3 linked regions of the Homo sapiens genome follow. The protein of the gene in region 1 interacts with the protein of each later gene in a pairwise test. Each region holds a gene or a part of one and is shown on either strand. Other genes may lie near its edges.

Region 1 (7,025 bases):
CACAAAACCTTCCCTGATAGACTCGCATGCACCTGCTGGGTATCTTGCTGGGTACCACCCTCCCAAGCCCCTGCATGGCCTCCTCACAGCCCCTGGCACCTAGTTATTGTCACCTGTTTTCTTGCCTCTATCCTGACTGTCCTGTGAGCTCCCTGAGGATGGCAGCCTGGGATTGGGCCCCACCACCACCCCACCCTCCGTGTGGAGCCCGCACACAGCCTGGGTATCAGAAACCATCGCTGGCTTCCTTGATGCCAAACACTGAGCTCCCTAGGCAGTGGAGGACCTCGGGTGAGACAGGCGGAGCAGTCATCCACAGCAGAAGTTCTGTCCATGTGCAGAATGGGGAAAATGAGACCCCAGATAAGTCAACACGGCCACCTGACTCCCAGCACAGTGCTCTCTCCAACAGGCCCCACATGGGGAGTGAGGCAAGTAGCTAGCCAAGAATCCAGAGGCAAGACTAGGAGGACAGATGACCCTGGCATCTGCTCATGGGATGGAGGGCAGGGTGGCATGGCCCCCAGCTCCCAGGCGGGCAGGCATCACCTGGAACAGCTCCTCTTCCAGCTGCAGGGCCCTGGTCTTGAGCTCCATCAGCGCCTCCTCCTTGCTGGTCGCCGCCGCCTGCAGCTCAGCTTCCAGCCGCTGCTCCAAGCCCTGGTACCTGCCAGGAGAATCCTTAGCACCCAGCCCCACCCCACCCTCGCCCCACCACACCCCTGCCTCCCTCATTCTTCCCCTCAGCCCTGTCCCCACCTCTGGTGCTGGCTTTCCTTTTCTCGCAGAAATTCCTGGCGCTCGAGAGCCGCCTGCTCCAGCTCACGCTGCAAATGCTCCAGCCGGTCCCCCAACTCCTTGCCCCGCACCACAGCTTTCTCCAGCTCCTGAGGGCAAGCAGAGCAGGCTCAGGGCAAGGGGGCAGGAGACAGCCGGAGACAGAGGCCTGAGAGTCAAGAGAGCTGCCTTTCTGTCCTTGACCTGCCATCCTGGGCACGTATCATTAAGCCTTTGGGCTCTACTTCCCCATCTATAAAATGGGAGCAAAGCCTGGGGCCCTTGAAATTGGGCATGAAAGAGCTGGGTGTTGTAAGCCTGGCAGGGCATGAGGAAGGCCCCTGGGCTGGGAGTCGGTAGGTGACACATGTTGGGCAAGTGCCGTCACCTCTCTGAGCCCACGGTTCTTCATGTGCGCAGTGAAAGGTGGATGCGCCCGGTGGGCTGCCACCCCAGCCATGTGACAGCGAGACAGCTAGAGAGGCTCAGCAGAGGTGGGTCGGGTGAGAGACCTTGGCTACAGGGAAAAGGCCACGGAGGGCTGGAGGGACAGGAAGTCAGGAGCTGACAGTGGGGGCTGGGGGGGCAGGGGGCGCCAGGATGCTGCCAGCTAGGTGACCTGTGGCCTTTGGCGGTTGGGCTGCACCACTTTGGAAGGAGACGGGAGGCCCATTCTGGCCTGTGTGCCCCAGAGGGAGGGAGACCAAACCATTCTGCCACATGGGGGGCCTGGCAGGATGAAGCTTCGGGGACAGCTGCCCATGACCAGCTGCCAGCCAAATCCTGCCTTGGAAACCAAGCCTACAAGCCTTGCTGCTGAAAACTACCTTCCTGGCTTAATAACTGCACCTAGGCCTTGCCCAAGGGGCACTGCACCTCCTGACACTCTTGGCCACCACCTCTCCCTGAAAAACTACAAGTCCGATGAGGCACTGCTGCCTGGCTGGCTGACAGCCACTAGCGCAAGTACTGGGGTAGGAGGCACGGTGAATAGAACCTCCCGCCCAGCCCCTGCCCTGCCCTCCTCCGGGCCCTGGCCACAGCCCTCCTAGAACCCCCTCCCCCAAGCCTGGGAGGCTTCCCCACCCAGTGGACAACCTGAGACCCCCTGGTTCCCTGACCTCCCCCTGGCCAGCCACCTTCTCCTGCTCCAACCAGGAAATCTCACAAAATTCCCCCTTTGTCCCTAGCTTCCCCCACCCTCTCAGTCCTTGGAGCCGGCTCTTCCAGCCCGCCAGCCCTACCCTCACCTTCACTGCCTACCTGCTGCCATTCCCTCCCATGGAACAGGTCCATTCTAGGTGCCAGGCATTGCCCCAAGCTCCCTACGCTCATTATCTTACAGGATCCTGTGAGGCAGGTACAATTTTTTTTTTTTTTTTTTTTTTTTTGAGACGGAGTCTTGCTCTGTCACCCAGACTGGACTGCAGTGGCGCGATCTTGGCTCACTGCAACCTCTGCCTCCTGGGTTCAAGCAATTCTCCTACCTCAGCCTCCCGAGTAGCTGGGATTACAGGTGCGTGCCACCACACCCGACTAATTTTGTGTTTTTAGTAGAGTTGGGGTTTTGCCATGTTGGCCAGGCTGGTCTCGAACTCCTGACCTCCGGTCATCCGCCCACCTCAGCCTCCCGAAGTGCTGGGATTACAGGTGTGAGCCACTGTGCCCAGCCAAGGCAGGTACAATTTTTATTCCAGTTTTACAAGTGAGAAAACTGAGACTCAGAGAGGTTAAGTAACTTGCCCCAAGCCACACAGCTGGAAAGTAGGCAGGTCGCCCGGCTAGACAGCATCTCAGCCACACCCCACAGAGTGGACCCCAGAGATGGTCTCTCACCTTCCCTCTCACATTCGCCAGAACCCCCTTACCCTGGGCCTGTCTTGCACAACGCCTGACCCCATGTCTACCCAGCAGTGTTCTCCCCACCCCCCATCCTCATAATGGGTCTCTGAGCAAATTACTCTTCCTCCCTGAATTTCAGGGTCCTTGTCTGTACAGAAATGGGACTGGAAACTGCCTGTGCAGGATGACTCAGTTCCTACCTGTGTTGCAATCTCACAGGTCCCCTAGCACTGGGGCCCATTGGCCCAAACACCCTTCCTCGCGCCTTTTCACACGCAGACCTGACCACTTTGCTCACTTTGCCCATTGGGGAGCCTTCAGTGGCTGCCCAATCCCCCATGGCAAAAGCCCTAACCCCTTCCTTAGCTTGGAAGGAAGCTGAAGCCACGCCCAAACACTGGATTGCTAGCTTCGTGGTCACTGCTGTGTGCCCAGAGCCTGGTACAGGGCCTGGCACCAAGAAGATGCCTGTAAACATGTTTAAATGAATAAGTAAAAGTGTGTTGGCCAGGTGCGGTGGCTCACGCCTGTAATCCCAGCACTTTGGGAGGCCGAGGCGGGCAGATCACAAGGTCAAGAGATTGAGACCATCCTGGCCAACATGGTGAAACCCTGTCTCTACTAAAAATTCAAAAAATTAGCTGGGCATGGTGGCATGCACCTGTAGTCCCAGCTACACGAGAGGCTGAGGCAGGAAAATCGCTTGAACCTGGGAGGTGGAGGTTGCAGTGAGCCGAGATCACGCCTCCAGCCTGGTGACAGAGGGAGACTCTGTCTCAAAAAAAGAAAAGAAAAGAAAAGAAAGAAACTAGCCAGGCCAACATGATGAAACCCCATCTCTACTAAAAATACAAAAATTGGCCGGGCGCGGTGGCTCACGCTTGTAATCCCAGCACTTTGGGAGGCCAAGGCGGGTGGATCACGAGGTCAGGAGATCGAGACCATCCTGGCTAACATGGTGAAACCCCGTCTCTACTAAAAACACAAAAAATTAGCCGAGTGCGGGAGCGGGTGCCTGTAGTCCCAGCTACTCCGGAGGCTGAGGCAGGAGAATGGCGTGAACCTGGGAGGCGGAGCTTGCAGTGAGCCGAGATAGCACCACTGCAGTCTGGCCTGGGCGAAAGAGCGAGACTCCGTCTCAAAAAAAAAAAAAAATACAAAAAGTAGCCAGGCGTGGTGGTGTGTGCCTGTACTCCCAGCTACTCAGGAGGCTGAGGTGGGAGAATCTCTTGAACCTGAGAGGCGGAGGTTGCAATGAACCAAGATCACCCCACTGCACTCCAGACTGGGCAACAGAGGGAGACTCTGTCTCAAAAAGAAAAAAGTGTCCAGTCCTCCTCTCACACCCACTCCCATGCCTCCCTAGTCAGCTTCCTCTGCCACTTACACCATGGCTACTGCGTCCTGATAGCCCCAAGCTCCCCTGTCCACCAAGGTGACCCTCCTCAAGCGCAGCCCCACACAGTTCTACCCTGGCTTTCCCTGCCTGGGGAGGGAGGACCAACACATTCAAAGCTGGCCCTCATCATCCCTTCCTCCTGGGCCCTGAGCATTCTTTTTTTGTTGTTGTTTCATTGGATGGTGTTTGTTTGTTTTGAGACAGTCTCGCTCTGTCGCCCAGGCTGGAGTATAGTGGCACAATCTCAGCTCACTGCAACCTCCGCCTTCCGGGTTCAAGCAATTCTCCTGCCTCATCCTCCCAAGTAACAGATTACAGGTGCCTGCCACCACGCCTGGCTGATTTTTGTATTTTTAATGGAGGCAGGGTTTCACCATGTTGGCCAGGCTGGTATAGAACTCCTGACCTCAAGTAATCCACCCACCTCGGCCTCCCAAAGTGCTGGGATTACAGGTGTGAGCCACCACACCCAGCCCCTGAGCGTCTTTAATGCCTTTGTCTTTGCACATGCCATTCCCTCTGGACAAAATGTCCTCCCCACCTAGTGACATTATGGTCACTCCTCCTAAAGCCTCCTTGCCTCCACTTGGGCATCAGCTCACCCTCCCATGGGCTCTCGTAGCACTTGGCTCTGAATAACCAGTGCTTGAACACTTACAACATACCCTTGCCAGCATGAACCAGACCTTTACAGCTACTGTCTCCCAAGGTCCTCCTAAGACCACCCCAGGTGGCCAGGAATAGTACCCCTGTTTTACAGAAGGATGCCTGGGGTGGAGGTGAGTCTACTGCTGCAGCCAGAGAGCCAAGATGTGTACTAGGCAGTCCCACCCCCTCCCACAGCGCCCCCATCACACAGTGGACATGGCTCTGTGCCCCAGGCCAGGCACACCTTTGGAAGGCAGGGGTGGACTTGGCCTTTCTATCTCCAGCCCCAGCTCAGTGCTGGGCACCCACTGAACAGCTGCTGATGGAATCAGTAACTCCCAACAGCCTGGAACTCTGCTTCCCAACCCCAGCGGTGAGCCCCAACCTGACCTACCGCCTGGAGGGCCTCCTTCTCCCGGCGCTCCCTCTCAGCCTCCTCCAAGTGCTGGCGGCCCTCGCTCTCCAGCACCTGCATCCGTTCCTCGGCGGCCTCCGACTGGGCCCGCAGCCTGGACCCCTCACGCTCCCACTGCCTCCGCTCCCGGCCCGCTGCTGCCAGCGCCTCCACCAGCGCCTCCCGTTCCTGGGACGCAGACTCCAGCTCCTGGCCAGCAGCCTCCACTGCCTCCCGCAGCCGGGCTTGCTCCCAGGCCTGGGCCTCTGCCTCCCGGTGGGCCTCGGCCTCTGCCCTTCGCGCTTGGGCCAGCTCCTTGGAGAGGCGGGCAGCCTCCGTGTTTTGGGCCTCCAGCTTGCGGGCCTGGGCTTCCAGCTCATCTCCAAGGGCCTCAGCCTTTCTCCTCAACTGTGCCACCTCCTCCCTGAGGGCCTCCTGCTCTGCGACACCACTGGCCAGGCTCTCCCCTGGGATTGGGCCTTCCCAGACCTGGACCTCAAGAGCCCCTTCTGACTTCTGCTGTGGTTTTTGCCAGGCTGGGTCCCTGACCGTCCCTTCCAGCCTCTGGTCATGCTCTCTGGCCTCTGCTTGTCCCGTGGCCAGGTCCAGGCCCTGGTTTGGGCCCTCCTGCTCCTCCAGCTGCACAGAGCTGGGCTCCGAAGGCCCTGGCTTGTGCTCAGGGCCCTCCTGTCTCAACCCCCAGGCCTCAGGCACCAACTCGCCTTGGGGAGCCTCTCTTCCCTCTGTCTCTCCTCCCAGCAACTGCGGGGCCTGAATTTTGGTCCCTGGACCCTGAGGTGGGGCCACAGAGGCAGGGCTCTGGAGAGAGGATCTACGGCCAGCCTTCTCCGGGGACTCCTGTGTCTCCACAGGAGAGCCTGACTCTTGCGGGGACCAGTCTGAGGCCTGGGGGTCCATGGCAGCTGCCTGAAGGGGACTCTCTGCCTCCTGTGGGTCTGAATCAGGTGCCTGGGGACACTCAGCTGATGCCTCGAGCACTGAGTCTAATGCCGGGGGAGCCAAGTCCAAGGCCTGGGGGCCTCCATCCCTTGCCTTCTGAACCAAGCCCTGAGGGCTGTGGTCGAAGGCCACAGGAGTCTGGGGAGCCTCCTCCAGCACTGGAAGAACAGGGTCCTCTCTCGGTGCCTCCAGCAGGGGGTGCTGAGGGCATACGAGAGGGACAGTCAGGCCCAGGGAGGGACTAGGGGAAGGGCCGGCCAGGACCCTGGGGGAGGGGACTTACCTGGCCCCCTGGCTGCCCCTGAAGCACCTGAAGCAGCCCCCGAAGCTCCCGGTTCTCCCTCTCAAGGGTCCGAAGCCGCCCAGCCTCTGCCTCCCTCACCTCATCTTGCAGCGAGGGGGCCGCTCCTGCTAGGGGTGCTGAGGATGAGAGATGAGGTCAGGACCCCTCCTTTACTGCCTGGCTCCTCACATACACACCCCAGAGGCTTGGGAGAAGGGAGGGAGTCAGAGGCTCTCCCCAGTACACTGCTGGAAAGCATAGGAAGCCCCCACCCCAGCCCTTCCAGTGGGGTCCCTCACCCTCCCCAGGGGATCCTGGAGGTGGCTCCAAGCTCCGCTGAAGCTCCAGCTCCAGCTCCACATTCTCCTCAGCCAGCTGGTCCACCTGATGCCGCAGAGAGTCCAGCTCCTGGGGGTGAGGGAAGGGTCAGACAAGCCCTCCACACCATGGCCAGGCCGAGTGTGTAGGTCGGAGGGTCACTAGAGGTCACCAAGAGCAGAGGTTGCAAGAATCACTAGGGACCACTAGGGAATCAATGGGGTCATGGGGTGACGGGGCAACCCAAGTGGGATCACTCTGGCTACCTTACCGCATGGGCCTCGCCCAGCCGGGTTCGCAGCAGCAGGTTCTCGCGCTGGGTCTCGTGCAGCCGGGCGCAGCGCTCTCGGGCAGCCTCCAGCTGCTCTTCCAGCAGCGCCTTGGACGCCTCCAGCACCCCCGAG
Region 2 (7,025 bases), on another chromosome or scaffold:
CCTTATTGAGGTACAATTCATGTGCTTGTGGGTTTGGATGGCACAATCTGTGTCTGGGCTAAGGAAAGCAGACTTGGCACCAACATTAACCCTGACAGGTTGGTAATCCTAAAGAAATGGAACCCTCAGCCCCAACAGTATTGGAGCCAGATGCTCTGAAATGGGTTTTGGCCAGCACTAGGCATGTGGCAGATGCTCAGTCAATATTGATTGGACTTGATCTGCACCTGAGAGACACAGCCCAGTCCTGAGCTTGGAGTGGGGGGCCCATGGACCATTGTCAGGACAGCAGGTTGGAGGAATTAGGGTAGGGTTTCCCTCCTAAACCATGCCAGGTCCAGGCTCACAAGCTCGTTGCTAAAAGTCAAGAAGAGAGCAGTGGGTGCTGGTCACAGGACTGGTCACCACCTGAGGGGGTGTGGTTAGCCCTCCAGATCCTTGAGAAGTGTCACTCAACTATGTTAGTGACAGCTTGGACCAAGAGACCAGTAAAGATACTGACTTTCCTTTTCAACTGGGGGATAAGAGGGCAGATTGGCTCAACTTAGCTGCTTCTCTAGAAGTCTGGAAAATGAACACACACCTGCCATCCAAGAGGCTATAAGCTCATTATGATTTTAATCAATTATTTCTCATGTTCCCCTGACTCAGAGGCATGGTAAGATGTTCAGTCAAGGAGTAAGTGGCAGCCATAGAGACCCTTTTACTTTACAAAGGGGAAACATCGGCTAGAGAAAAGCAGGAATTCACTTTTATAAGACTGTATTAGTTCATTAGAGACTGAGCCCAAGAGTCCTGACTCCCACTTTGATACCACCATGTCCTCAGTTTTCAACCCACATGGATGGAACTCTGTGCTATTTCTGCCCCCTGGTCTAGGGAGATAGTCATTTTTCTGCCCATCTTCTGACCCCTCCCCTTCTCCTCCCTCTTGGCATTTGGCAGATCCAGGCATCTATTCCAGGAACTGGAAGCCAAGCGCAACAGGTGCTTGGAGGTCATCATGATCAGCCCAGACCCCAGGCCCTCCCCTGGCTTGGCCCGGTGGGCTGAGAGCTATGAGGCCAAGTGTGAGCGCAGGCAAGAGATCCGTGAAAGCCGCCGCTGCCGTCCCAATGTGACCACTTGCCGCCAGGTGGGGAAGACGCTGAGGATCCAACAGAGAGAGCAGCTCCAGAGAGCTCGACTGCAGCAGTTCTTCAGGAGGAGGAACCTGGAGCTAGAGGAGAAGGGCAAAGCGCAGCATCCCCAGGCCAGGGAGCAAGGGCCCTCCAGGCGGCCAGGACAGGTGACTGTCCTCAAGGAACCCTTGTCTTGTGCCAGAAGGATTTCTTCTCCCAGAGAGCAGGTGGGCCGTGTCAAGGGACATACTGCTGTGTGCTCTGGGACCCTCTCTGGACAAGGAGGGTGGGTGGGCTCAAGGTCACTAAAAAGTGACCTAAATCAAGTCCTTCTTCCTCAGTCATATAGTAAAGTTGCCAAGAGCTACTTATAGTAAAGTTGCCAACAGCTACTTATTCAGAGATTTTTGCTGTTGTGTTTTCGTTTGTTTAGCTCTTTTTGTTCTGCACTTGACTTATAAGAGAGAAAAAATAATTTTTAAAAACAATTTCAGGCTGGGCATGTTGGCTTATACCTGTAATCCCAGTACTTTGGGAGGCCAAGGCAGGAGGATCACTTGAGGCCAGGAGTTCGAGACCAGCCTTTTGATAGAGACAAGACCCTGTCTCTATCAAAAACTTTACAAACTAACCAGGCATGGTGGTGCACACCTGTAGTCCTAACTAATCAGGAGGCAAAGATGGGAGGATTACTTGAACCCAGGAGTTTGAAGCTGCAATAAGCTATGATCACACCATTGCACTCCAGCCTGGGCAAGAGAGGGAGACCCTATCTCTAAAAAACTTAAAAATAAAATAAATAAAAATAATTCCAAAGCTAATGCCTATATCAGTTCAAATTTAGGCAATATACACATGTCTTCTACAGCTATCTTACAGCATTCATTCATCCATCAGTCATCAAATATTTACTGAAAGCTTATTATATGCCAAGCACACAGGCCAGTCTTCTTGACACACACACAGACATATCTGTCCTCTTTTCTTCTGCAAGGCTGTTGTGCCCACTCTTCTCACTTCCTCTTGTGTCATTCCAATTCTATTAAATCACTTGACTATAGCCTCATCTGGTCCAGGAAGCTTTCCCTGGCTTCTCCAGGCCACCTCTGCTGTCTATGGGCCTTGTGAGGTTAAAATCTTCTAAGATTGTGTAACCCTTAGAGGGCCCATTAGTCTGGCCTGGAAAGGAACAATGTTGGCAAAAACCAGGGTATGCTGAGATGACCTTGGCCAGCAAACCATCTTCCTACTGAAGTTGTGAGCATGTTGACAGCAGGGATGTGTCCACTATGTTCCATGGTAATGCTTGGCATTGTTCCCTACCCAGAGTGGGTACTCTATCAGGGCTTCTTAACTAGTGGATCTGTTATGCTCAATAGGAGATGCTGTTCAGAGAAATGATCCTAGAGCCCAGTTGCAAAAGAAAAGGAACTGTATACTAAAGCAAAAAACCTTCCCACAACTCCCCACTTTACCTAGTCTTCACACAAAACCTCAATGATTTTCTAGCTGTTACTAAGAGAAAGGAGGCTTTCCTTTGAATATGGAAGGAACCTTATGGATTATCTATTCCAAACTCCTCACTACACAGACAGAAGACTGAGACCTAGAAAAGATGGGATCTGAACCCAGATCCCCTCACTCCCCACTCAGACCAGTTCTCTTTCCACATCACCATGCTGGCTATGTAAGTGGCCATAACCAAACAAGGTAGAGAGAGAAAAAAAAACAACAACTAGAGATTCTAGAGAGAAAACCTGGAGAAAAGTACAGCTCCACATATGCCTGGCCTGAGGAGGACCATTTCTGCCAGTCAGGACAAGGATATCAGGAGCAGGAGAAGCCTGTGTGGCTCTGAAAGCTTGAGTGGGCTACTTTGGTTTTGTGGATCTGAAACATTGTCTTCGTCCTGTAATGAATTACCACAGACTGGGTGGCTTAAATAACAGAAATTTATTTCTTACAATTCTGGAGTCTGGAGTTCTAAACCCATGGATTCTGCAGATCTGGTGTCTGATGAGAGCACTCTTCCCACTATGCAGATGGCCTTCTTCTCATTGTGTCCTCACAAGGCAGAGAGCAGAGAGAGAAAGCAAGCTCTCTCGTGTCTCTTCTAATAATGGCACTAATCCCATTCATGAGGGCTACCTGCTCTGACCTAATTATTTCTCAAAGTCTCCACCTCCTAATACTATCACATTGGGAGATAGGATTTCAACACACAGATTTGGGCGGGGGGACAATAAACACTCAGTCCATAACAAACATGATGGTTAGTTCTTCCTTCCGAAATCATCAGGAGAGTCTTTCAAGAGGCTCCAGGCAGTGGTTTTCAGCATTCCCCACTTGCCTTCCAGGTGACAGGCACCAGCTCTGAAGTCTTTCCAGCCCAGCATCCTCCTCCCTCAGGCATCTGCAGGGATCTGTCTGACCACCTCTCCTCACAGGCTGGGGGCCTTCCTCCACAGGACACTCCCATCAAGAAGCCACCCAAACACCACCGTGGTAAGAGCAGAGCCTCCCTCACTCCACAGGGCCTGCAGAGAATCCTGAGACAACTGTCCCAGCTCACTGGCAATGGAGAGTCCCTGTCCCTCCCCACTTCCCTCACTTCCTCCCTGTAAGTTCTAAATCAACTTATCCTCCATCTCTCAGGTACTCAGACAAAGGCAGAAGGACCAACAATTAAGAACGATGCCAGTCAGCAAACCAAGTGAGTTCCTGACCCTAACCCTCTCACATCCCATCCATTCCTCTCTAGAGAGAACACAATGAATTTCCATGTCCGCCTTAATTAAGAAAGAGGAAGCCCTTCCCCACCCTACTGGCTCTTCAGAAGGAATCAACCCACTGCCTCCTGACTTGATTCTTTGGTCCATTATCATTATTTTTAATTTCTTCTCTTTCCAGTTACGGAGTTGCAGTTCTGGATAAGGTAAGCACATATTCACTTTGAAGGGGTCAAATCAGAAAGTATTAAGCTCTGACATTCTGGAATTCCATGATAAACTTGGCTGGGATGGAGGGGCATCTTCTTCCTGGATGGCAAGGGGGTACTGAGCATAGACATGGGGACTAAAGGGACCCTGTCAGAGCCAAAGCAGAAGAGGTTTGCTCTACACAAGCCAGCCCAGGCTCTGGTTCTATATCCCAGGGTTTCAGGGGACTTACAGACATTTTGAATACCCTTGTTCTTTCTCTCCAGGAAATCATCCAGCTTTCTGATTACCTCAAAGTAAGTGGCATGTGACCCCTCCCCTCAGTTCCTCCATCCACTTACCCCCGATCCTCCAGGTTAATCTTACCCTCTTGCACTTTGTGCCCGCACCCCCAGGAGGCCCTACAAAGGGAGCTGGTCCTAAAACAGAAAATGGTGATTCTCCAAGACCTACTGTCCACTCTGATTCAGGCCTCTGACAGCTCTTGGAAGGTAAGGGAATGAAATTCTTTTTGAACAAAGCTTGGGCTTCTATGTGTTCCCATCTCATTTTTCTTTCCACATCATCACAGTAAGAGAAGGGGTTTTCTCACTACTGAAAAGTAAGCTGGGAAGAGGCAGGAGATGAGGGGGATGGTGCTCAGACCTAGAAGTCAAACAGGTCACAATAAATATATGGGTCATCACCTGAGGGTCATGGTGCTACATATCCAAGGAAGACCCAGAAACAAAAGTGGCAAGAATTCCCATTTTTTAATTTGTTGGAAGGAATGAAGGAAGATCCCAATATAGTTTACATTACTAAATATGCTAAATGTCAAATATTTTCATATGGGATTCCCACTGATATTTATCGAAACCAGCATGCCATGTACCCACTCAGTCCGAATAAAAATATCAGAGTGGGAAGGGACCTTAGAGACAATCTGGCCTAATACTCTCATTTTGCCCATGAGGAAACTGAGCTTCATAGGGGTCAAGTAACTTGCGAAAAGTCACACAGCTAGGTAGTGGCAGATCTGCAACTAAAATTCAGGCCTTTGATTTTAGTCCATTCAATGTACAATATTCATAGGTTATGTCCTCTATACAGAGCACTGGACTAGCACTAGAAATAATGAGATTATTTAGATAGGGTTCTTGCTTTGAGAAGGCTCACGGTTTTGTAAGAAAGACACATGACTAAACAATACAAAAACATGAAAAATAAAAGAAATGTTTTCAAGATATAGGAAAATACAAGAAGGAATGAGTGACTCCAGAGAAGAAAAGAGCCAGGGGAATACTTATATAAGCATTTGCCAGGAAAATATGGAAGAAGGAATAGTATTTTAGTTGGGGTACAGGCAAAGGTCTAAAGGCAAGGCCGGGGGTGGTGGCTCACACCTGTAATCCCAGCACTTTGGGAGCCCGAGGCGGGTGGATCACCTGAGGTCAGGAGTTCAAGACCAGCCTGGCCAACATGGCGAAACCCCGTCTCTACTAAAAATACAAAAATATTAGCTGGGTGTGGTTGCACATGCCTGTAATCCCAGCTACTCAGGAGGCTGAGGCAGGAGAATCGCTTGAACCAAGAAGGCAGAGGTTGCAGTAAGCTGAGATCACCTCATTGCACTCCAGCCTGGACAAAAGAGCGAGACTCCATCTCAAAAAAAAAAAAAAAAAATCTAAAGGCATGACACAGTCTAGTAAAATGGTTCTCCAATTTTTTTATTTCAGGATTCCTTTATACTTTTTAAATTATTGAAAATATATAAGAAATGTTTATATTTACCATACTAGAAATTAAAACAGTTGGCCAGGTGCCGTGCATCATGTCTGTAAATCCCAGCACTTTGGAAGGCTGATGCAGGAAGATCACCTGAGGTCAGGAATTAGAGACCAGCCCGGCCAACATGGCAAAACCCTGTCTCTACTAAAAATACAAAAATTAGCCAGGCGTGGTGGTGCACACCTGTAATCTCAGCTACTCCGGAGGCTGGGCCACGAGAATCGCTTGAGCCCAGGAAGTGGAGGTTGCAGTGAGCGATGATAGTGCCACTACACTCCAGCCTAGATGACAGAGCAGGACTCTGAGAGACAGGAGAGAGAGAGAGAGAGAGAGAGAGAGAGAGAGAGGGAGAGAGAGAGAGAGGAAGGAAGGAAGGAAGGAAGGAAGGAAGGAAGGAAGGAAGGAAGGAAGGAAGGAAGGAAGAAATTAAGATAGAAATTGAGAAAGAATTATTAATTTTAAAATAATGAGAGTAAAATTTTTCATGCTAACCTGAATTACATGTTTTAAGAAAAACAGTCTGGGTGCGGTGGTTCACACCTGTAATCCCAGACTTTGGGAGGCCAAGGCAGGTGGATCACTTGAGCTCAGGAGTTCAAGACCAGCCTGGGCAACATGGCAAAACCTCGTCTCTACTAAAAATACAAAAAATTAGCCAGGTACATTGGCATGCACCTGTAGTCTTAGGAACTCAGGAGGCTAAGGCAGGAGAATCTCTTACGTCCCAGGGGTGGAGGTTGCAGTGAGCCAAGACTGCACCACTGCATTCCAGCCTGGGCGATGGGAGTGAAACTCTGTCTCAAAAAAGAAAAAGAAAAAGAACCATATTTTCAAAAACAAAATTAGTGACAGGAGTATCATTGCTTTACACTTTTGCAAATATTTTTAATGTCTGGCTGAAAAAAAAGACAGCTAGCTTCTCAATTTGCTTCTGTATTCAATCTATTGGTTTAAACATAAAGAAAAATTCAGTTTCACACAAATATGTCATTAGAAAAAGTAAGACTTTGCTGATCCCTTAAAAGGGTCTTGGGGATTCCCAAGTTTCCTCAGAATCCCCATGTTGAAACCTGTAAATTAGTATGTACTATAAATTCATGTATTAATATGAGCTACAAGCAGCTTGACACCACCAAAGCATACCGCACCGGGTGGAAAGAGATGGAGCACACAACCTCACCGGCCTGTGTGACAT
Region 3 (7,025 bases), on another chromosome or scaffold:
CATGATGACTTGTTTAAACCTCTTTCCTCTACAGATATGGAAACATTAGATCCCTCAAGGACAAAGACTGTATCTTAGTCACCTTTAAGATCCAGGACACACTGCCACGTGCAATAAATGTTGGTGCCTTTCCTTCCACTTTCAGGCAGGCCAGGGACCTGTTTCTAGGTGTATCTTCTCATTAGGCCATCTCCTGTCCTAGTTAGACTTGAGCATGATTGGGGTGGGCCTGGCCCTGTCCTCTTTCTGGGCACACTAGAGTAAGCCTAGACTGTCCAGTCACCCAGCCCCAGACTCCCCGGGGCATGCTTCCTCCTCAGTTTTCTTGGGTTTCAGAGGGAACAGGAATACAGGGATTGGTACCCAAGCAGATGGATGGGGGACTAGGGAGAAACCAACAACGTGCTACTCATCCTGCCATGGGGACCTCTGCATCTCCTCTAGCCCGAAACTCCACTGTCCCCAGCCAGGTGATGGTCCCTCTTCTGTGCTCCCACAGCTTTCTGACATCCCAAGGCAGGGCACTTGGCTCCCTGTCCTGTAACTGTTTACTTGTCATTTCCCTAGTTTGCCTGTGGGCTTTTTAAGGGCAAGCACTGTGGCGTGACTCGTCATTGCACCCCCAGAGCCTGACCCAAAGCCTGAGACAAAGTGAGCCCTCAAATGACCAGCAAATGAAATATGAAAGCTGGACTCGAGGCCTCAGCTGAAACCTGACCCTCTTCCTCTAGCCAGCATGTGGCCCAACAGCAGCGGGAGATGGGCTGAGGCAGTGGGGGCAGTGTCCTGCCCAGCAATTACTCCCCCAGTGAGGTCTGTGGAGGTTTTTGGGCTGGAGGCACCATCCTACAGTGAGGGGTGGACTGGAATGAGAAGAACCCGAATGAGAAGTTCCTCCTGCAACATGCATTGAGCTAGGGCCTCCAGGGCTGTGGGGAAGGGGTTCGGAGGGGCTTGTGGCCCTCTTCCTGGCTCTATCACTCAGGGAAGATTCTCAGAGCCTTGTAGGGCAGGTGCACTACTCAGGCTCAGATGTTGGCCTTGACCCCTACAGATGACCCTTTCTGACCCCACACGACCTCCTATCTAGCCCCTCTGTGTGGCTCCACTTCAGTCCTACTGATGTCCACCCTGCTGCTCTCTGGCTTCCTGAGGCTTAAGGAATAGAGGTGCATATTGCATCTTCTGGTATTTTCCTTTTGACCTTTTTTGGGGGCCCAGCTAAAGCTGGTCTGCACTCTCTGAGGAGGCTCAGGATGTCCAAGTGATAAGATGGGACAAGGAGCCCTTCTGTCAGTTCTGGTCCTGGGCGTACAGAACATCCCAGATCAGAGACCAGAGCAAGGGGCAAGGGCCAGGATAGGCCTGGCCTCCATCTCCCCCATCCTCCTGCCTCCAGAGAAAGCCCGCCTTACTCTCCCAGCCAGAGGAGCCCTCTCTGCTCCTTTTATCAGCCCTCTTTAAAGACACTCAAGGAAGGTCCTTCCCCAACTGTCCTGTGTTTTTGAGATCCCAAAGTCTGGAACCTTTCCTTAGGTCTTCCTTAAATACCAGAGGAAACAGCTTGTTTCCTCTCCACTTGCTCTGGCACAGAAACTGGTGCCTACCATCTTTTACACAATAAATTGGAGAAGAAAAGAAGAGTGTTGAGTTCACCCACCCAATAGCCCTCTCTCAGCCAGATATCCCGTGTCCAGCTCTCCTGCTGGCCTGTCATGGGACCTTCAGTCCTGTCTCTGGGTTTCTCTCCATGCCCAACTTTGGCAACAGAACTGCAGGGGCCTTTGAGCCTGGCATCCCTGGGGACCTCTCAGTCTCAGGAGGGGGAGGGAATGGGGAGGATTTCCCAGCATCTCTAAACCATATTCCTATTTATACTCCACCCCCACCAGCTGGCCCACGCCGCCCAGTGCCCACATTCTGACAAGAACCCCTGGCTGGTCGTCTCCAACTTTCCTCATTCCAATCTGAGAGACTAGCTTAAAAAAAGCAGCTTCATGTCACCGCCAAGAACTCCACTGGGCTCCTCTGACCAGCTCCCAGCTTCTGGTCACTTGGATTGCCCCGCCTCTCCCTCCTCACACTCCGCATGGCCTCCCTCCCACCAGGCTGGGCCCAGGAGGCCTCCTTGGCCTGCATGGCCTCCCCCAGGCCTCTGAACATCTCATAGTTGTTCAACTGTTCTCTAAATGTCTTTTATCAGTGTCACTCACTCACCAGGGTTCAGCCTCCTCAAAGTCACTCACTCATTTCACAAGCACCTGCTCAGCGCCAGGCACTGTCCTGGGCCCTGGGCCTCGGATTCCACTCCCTTTGGCTGCCTGGGTCTCCTCCTGCTTCTTCCTTCCTCCCGGGTCTGGTGGACTTACTTCCTCTACCTGTCCCTTGAATGTCAACACTCCCACAATTCTCTCTTTGGCCCTTTGCTCTTCCTCTCTGGGCATGCTTCCTGGGTGACCTCATCCCCTCCCGAAGTGGAAACCACCACCCGCGTGCTGATGACTCCAGATCTGTAGCCCTGGCCCCACCAAGCCCCTCAGCTCCAGATGCTTGGGTGCAGCTGCCTTCTGGGCACCCTGCCTGTGTGTCCCCCAAGGGTTCAGTTAGAGGTATGTGTGTGTGTGTTTTCTTTTGGAGACGGAGTCACCCAGGCTGGAGTGCAGTGGCGTGATCTTGGCTCAGTGCAACTTCTGTCTCCCGGGTTCAAGCAATTCTCCTGCCTCAGCCTCCCAAGTAGCTGGGACTACAAGCGCACGACACCACACCCAGCTAATTTTTTGTATTTTAGTAGAGATGGGGTTTCACCATGTTACCCAGGCTAGTCTCAAACTCCTGAACTCAGGTAATCCGCCCGCCTCGGCCTCCCAAAGTGCTAGGATTATAGGTGTGAGCCACCGCACCTGGCCAAGATGTGTTTTTAAGTGAAGAGGACAGATGTGTACAGTTTGTAAAAGCTGTACGTATGCAGGATATACACATGTGTCACAGGCATGCACATATAAACACAGCACACTGTTAGATAACCCAGAAGGTGGTAAGTCAAAACACCAGCAGTAGTTATTCCTGGGTGATAGAATTATGGGTGATTTTAATGTCTTCTTTTTGCTTATCTGCATCTTCTAATATTTCCATAATGAACATTTATTGCTTACATAAGAAGAAAATAGCAACACTTCTTTTTAAATGAAAAGAAAGTACTTTTAGATTGAGATCCTGGAGCAGTTTAGTGCAAGGCCTGGAGAGAACTATGATTATCTTGAGCAGGGGTCAGCAAACCTTTTCTGTAAGAGGCCAGACAGCCACTATTTTAGGCTTTGCGGGCCATCGTCTCTGTCGCCACTCTGCCACTCTGCCTTTGCAGCACAAAAGCACCCACAGGCAAGATGTAAATGAATGAGTTTGGCCTCACACCAGTAAAACTTTACTATGAACACTAACATTTGAATTTTATAAAATGTTTAAGGGTCACAAAACTTTATTTTCTTCTTTTGACTTTTTACCGACTGCTTAAAAATGTAAAAATCATTCTTAGCTCATGGGCCATACAAAAACTGTCGGGACTTGGCCAAGAGCCATGGTTTGCCAACCCCTAGCCTTGAGCATCCAGTGCCTGTGTAGTGTTTGAATCCAGCATCCATTTCTTTGCGAGGTAGTTGTTCTCCTCCTAATTGACAGGGCTGAGGCATTCCAGGATTTCCTTGCCCATCTCAGCATGGCAGGGACCAGGTACCCAGCCATCAGCTGGGGCAAGCCCCTGGCTCTACAGTTTGGAGGAACAGGAGGCTGAGCCCCTCTTGGGACCCCAGCACACAGCTCACCTTGTTAGCAGGACAGGCAAAAGTCGGAGCCTCAGACCAGCAGCCTCAGAGGGGCCTTTGGAAATCCCCTGGTCTGCACCCTCATGTTTCAGGCAAAGAAGGCAAGACTCAGAAAGGTGAGCGATCTGCCCGAGGCCACTGAGGGTGACAGGGCAGAGCTGGGACCACACTTTGGGCTTCTGACTTTGTGCAGGGTTGGAAGGGACTGCATGGGCCTGCGTAGAGATGGCACTCCCTTTATTGGTCACCACAGCCAAGAAAGTCACAGCATCCCCAAGGGCCACCTTCCTTGGGAAGGAGCCATGCCAGGTTTGGCACCCACACAGAACATGGCACCCAGCCCAGCCACGGCAGGGGATGCTGCCAGCTGGGCTCCACGGCAGGATCAGGGAGGGGCTCTGTGACCCCTTTCCTGGGCTCATCCCATGTTGCAGGCAGAGTTTGGGAGCCAGTGCTGCTTTGTCAAGAGTGATGCCCTCTAGCATAACACCTACCGCCCACCTGCTTCCAGGCAGTGGGTCCTGCCAGGATGTGGGAAGGACAGCCCTGTCACCTCCTGGGCTGGTCACCCCGCAGCCCAGGGTGCTGGGTGGCTGGGGCCAGAGAAGAGAAGAAGGTCTGGTTCCTGAGGAGACTCCCCAGGCAGAAAAGGGCAGGCTTCTTTAGGGAAGCAAGGTGTGAGGGCAGTAATCATTCTGGAGCTCTGAATTTCCCTCGATAATGATAAGATGGGGAACAGTGTTCAGAGTGAGGGAGGGTAGAAATTTTTTTTTTTTTTTTGAGACAAAGTCTTGCTCTGTCACCCAGTCTGGAGTGCAGTGGTACAATCCTGGCTCACTGCAACCTCTGCCTCCCTTGTTCAAGCGATTCTCGTGCCTCAGCCTCTGGAGTAGCTGGGATTACAGGTGCCTGCCACCATGCCTGGCTAATTTTTGTATTTTTAGTAGAGATGGGGTTTCGCCATGTTGGCCAGGCTGGTCTTGAACTCCTGACCTCAGGTGATCCACCTACCTCGGCCTCCCAAAGTTCTGGGATTACAGGTGTGAGCCTCTGTGCCTGGCCAGAAACATTTTAAGAATAGAGTTCTCTTCCCAATTTGGGGGCTGATCCCTGATGTTTGCAGGGACCCTGATTTCAGAAAAAAATATCAAGTGGGGCCAAAGGCACTGAGAACTACCAAATGTAGCCCATTAACTCTGCCACCACCCCTTGATAATGACATCAGGTAAAGCAAAGAGCTACTAGGTGGACATTATCTCACTGGAGTCCTCGCAATCACATGAGATAATAGTATTATCCTCCTATTTTATAAATGAGGAAACTGAAACCTGGGTGAGCAAATTACTTAACCTAAGGCAACCAGTTACTGAGTGGAAGAGGCAGAATCTGAACTGACCCCAAAGTCCATAAATTGCCTCCACCCATGGTGGACAGGAGACATACACTCAACATATAAATAATGATGAGTGCACCAGCCAGCCATTATTGGGTCATCTTGTCTATCCCGACTCCACCATTTCTAGGGAAGACTTTTATTTAATGGTGGGGGTAGGGAGGCTCAGAGGGTGGGACCATTATCAAGAGCTCCAGGAAAGAGGATCTCATCATAGTCCTTTCAAAAGTTCTGGCCCATGTCTCCCAGAGCAAGGTGTCCAGTCTCTTCAGGGTTACTCATGCTGTCAGGGAGCTTTGCTTCAAGACCCGTTTTTTGTTTTGTTTTGTTTTGTTTCTCGCCCAGGCTGGAGTGCAGTGGTGCGACCTCGGCTCACTGCAACCTCCACCTCCTGGGTTCAAGCGATCCTCCTACCTCAGCCTCCCGAGTAGCTGGGATTACAGGCACACGCCACCATGCCTAGCTAATTTTTGTATTTTTAGGAGAAACAGGGTTTCATCATGTTGGCCAGGCTGGTCTCAAACTCCTGGCCTCAAGTGATCCACCCGCCTTGGCCTTCCAAAGTGCTGGGATTACAGGCATGAGCCACCACACCCGGCCTAAGACCCTTTTCAATTTTTTTTTTGACAAGTTCTTGTTCTGTTGCCCAGGCTGGAGTGCAGTGATGCAATCATGGATCACTGCAGCCTCAACCTCCTAGGCTCAAGCGATCCTCCCCTCTCAGCCTCCCGAGTAGCTGGGACTACAGGCGCGTGCCACCACACCTGGCTAATTTTTGTATTTTTTTAGAGATGGGGTCTTGCCATGTTGCCCAGTCTGGTTTCGACCTCCTGGGCTCAAGCAATCCGCCCACCTCCCTTTTCAGTTTAAAACCAAACCTCACACTTGCCTCACTACCCCTCCTCCTCTGCAGATGTAGCTGTGGAGATTCTAGGAGCAGATGGGCTCTCTTTCAGACAGGAGGTCTGGCGGAGATGCGCCCACGGCTTTTCCTCTTCCAGACTTGCTGCTGAACCACTGGCCAGCTCCAGCCAGGCCCAGCTACCAGCTCTGTAGTGATCCTGGATCCCAGACCCTTGGCCTGAGCTGTTGTGAGCCCAGCCTGTGTGTGCATGTGCATGCAGCTGTGTGTGTGTAAGCAGCTGTGGGAGCCAGGACAAGATTAACCTTGGTCTGCTCCCACCCCCTGGATGTGGGAAAGTGCCCACTCAGCAGGGAATGCCTGGAGGGCAAAGGTGAAAAGTCCAGGGAAGGGGACGTAAGGGGTTATGGTGGGACACAGAGCCGAGGAAGAGAAATGTGACTTATTGCCAAAGGTGGGCTAATCAGGTGGGCCTGGAACCAGGCCAGCCACTCACCCTGAACAACAGAGCAGAACAGGGACTGCAATTAATTAAGTACCAGGGGAGGGTCCTCCTACCTCAGGGAAAGAAGGCGCTGCCAGAGGGCCCTCAGAGCAAGAGACTGCTGCCTCTCCAGCTCCCAGTGCCTGCCTCATTCATAACTGCCAGAAGGTAGGGCCCCCACAGCACAGATTCCTGGCCCCTCCTGGAAGATTTCCATCCAACCCATTCCCCTACCACCACCACCATTCTCTTACACAGAGCCCTCCTCCCTAACCTGGAAGAGCAGTAAAGATTCTGTCTAACTAAGGGCTTGGCCTGATGGGGCTGGGAAAATCTACCTTGGTCTCTAGACCAGCCCTGGTGCAATCACCAGGAAATTCCCTTTCCAAACAAGCACCACCAACCACTATAGCTACCAGTTATTTAGTCTCTGCTACATGCCAGGCACTGTGCATTATTTTTTTTTTT

The links. Proteins that work in one complex are often made in the same cells at the same time.
Region 2: the proteins of CCDC88B (region 1) and TRAF3IP3 interact in binary tests that used the Homo sapiens proteins (3 or more experiments, as listed by UniProt).
Region 3: the proteins of CCDC88B (region 1) and CDK18 interact in binary tests that used the Homo sapiens proteins (3 or more experiments, as listed by UniProt).

What each region holds. Positions count from the first base shown.
Region 1 is NC_000011.10:64,343,193-64,350,217, reverse strand, and holds part of CCDC88B (coiled-coil domain-containing protein 88B), read right to left. Parts: coding exon 6,893-7,025; intron 6,712-6,892; coding exon 6,603-6,711; intron 6,441-6,602; coding exon 6,304-6,440; intron 6,222-6,303; coding exon 5,061-6,221; intron 888-5,060; coding exon 760-887; intron 668-759; coding exon 550-667; intron 1-549. UniProt on the Homo sapiens protein: Acts as a positive regulator of T-cell maturation and inflammatory function.
Region 2 is NC_000001.11:209,759,037-209,766,061, forward strand, and holds part of TRAF3IP3 (TRAF3-interacting JNK-activating modulator), read left to right. Parts: 5' UTR 1-98; intron 99-945; 5' UTR 946-1,003; coding exon 1,004-1,348; intron 1,349-3,478; coding exon 3,479-3,626; intron 3,627-3,776; coding exon 3,777-3,834; intron 3,835-4,031; coding exon 4,032-4,056; intron 4,057-4,326; coding exon 4,327-4,356; intron 4,357-4,455; coding exon 4,456-4,551; intron 4,552-7,025. UniProt on the Homo sapiens protein: Adapter protein that plays essential roles in both innate and adaptive immunity. Plays a crucial role in the regulation of thymocyte development.
Region 3 is NC_000001.11:205,507,653-205,514,677, reverse strand, and holds part of CDK18 (cyclin-dependent kinase 18), read right to left. Parts: intron 2,362-7,025; exon of another isoform or gene 2,218-2,361; intron 1-2,217. UniProt on the Homo sapiens protein: May play a role in signal transduction cascades in terminally differentiated cells.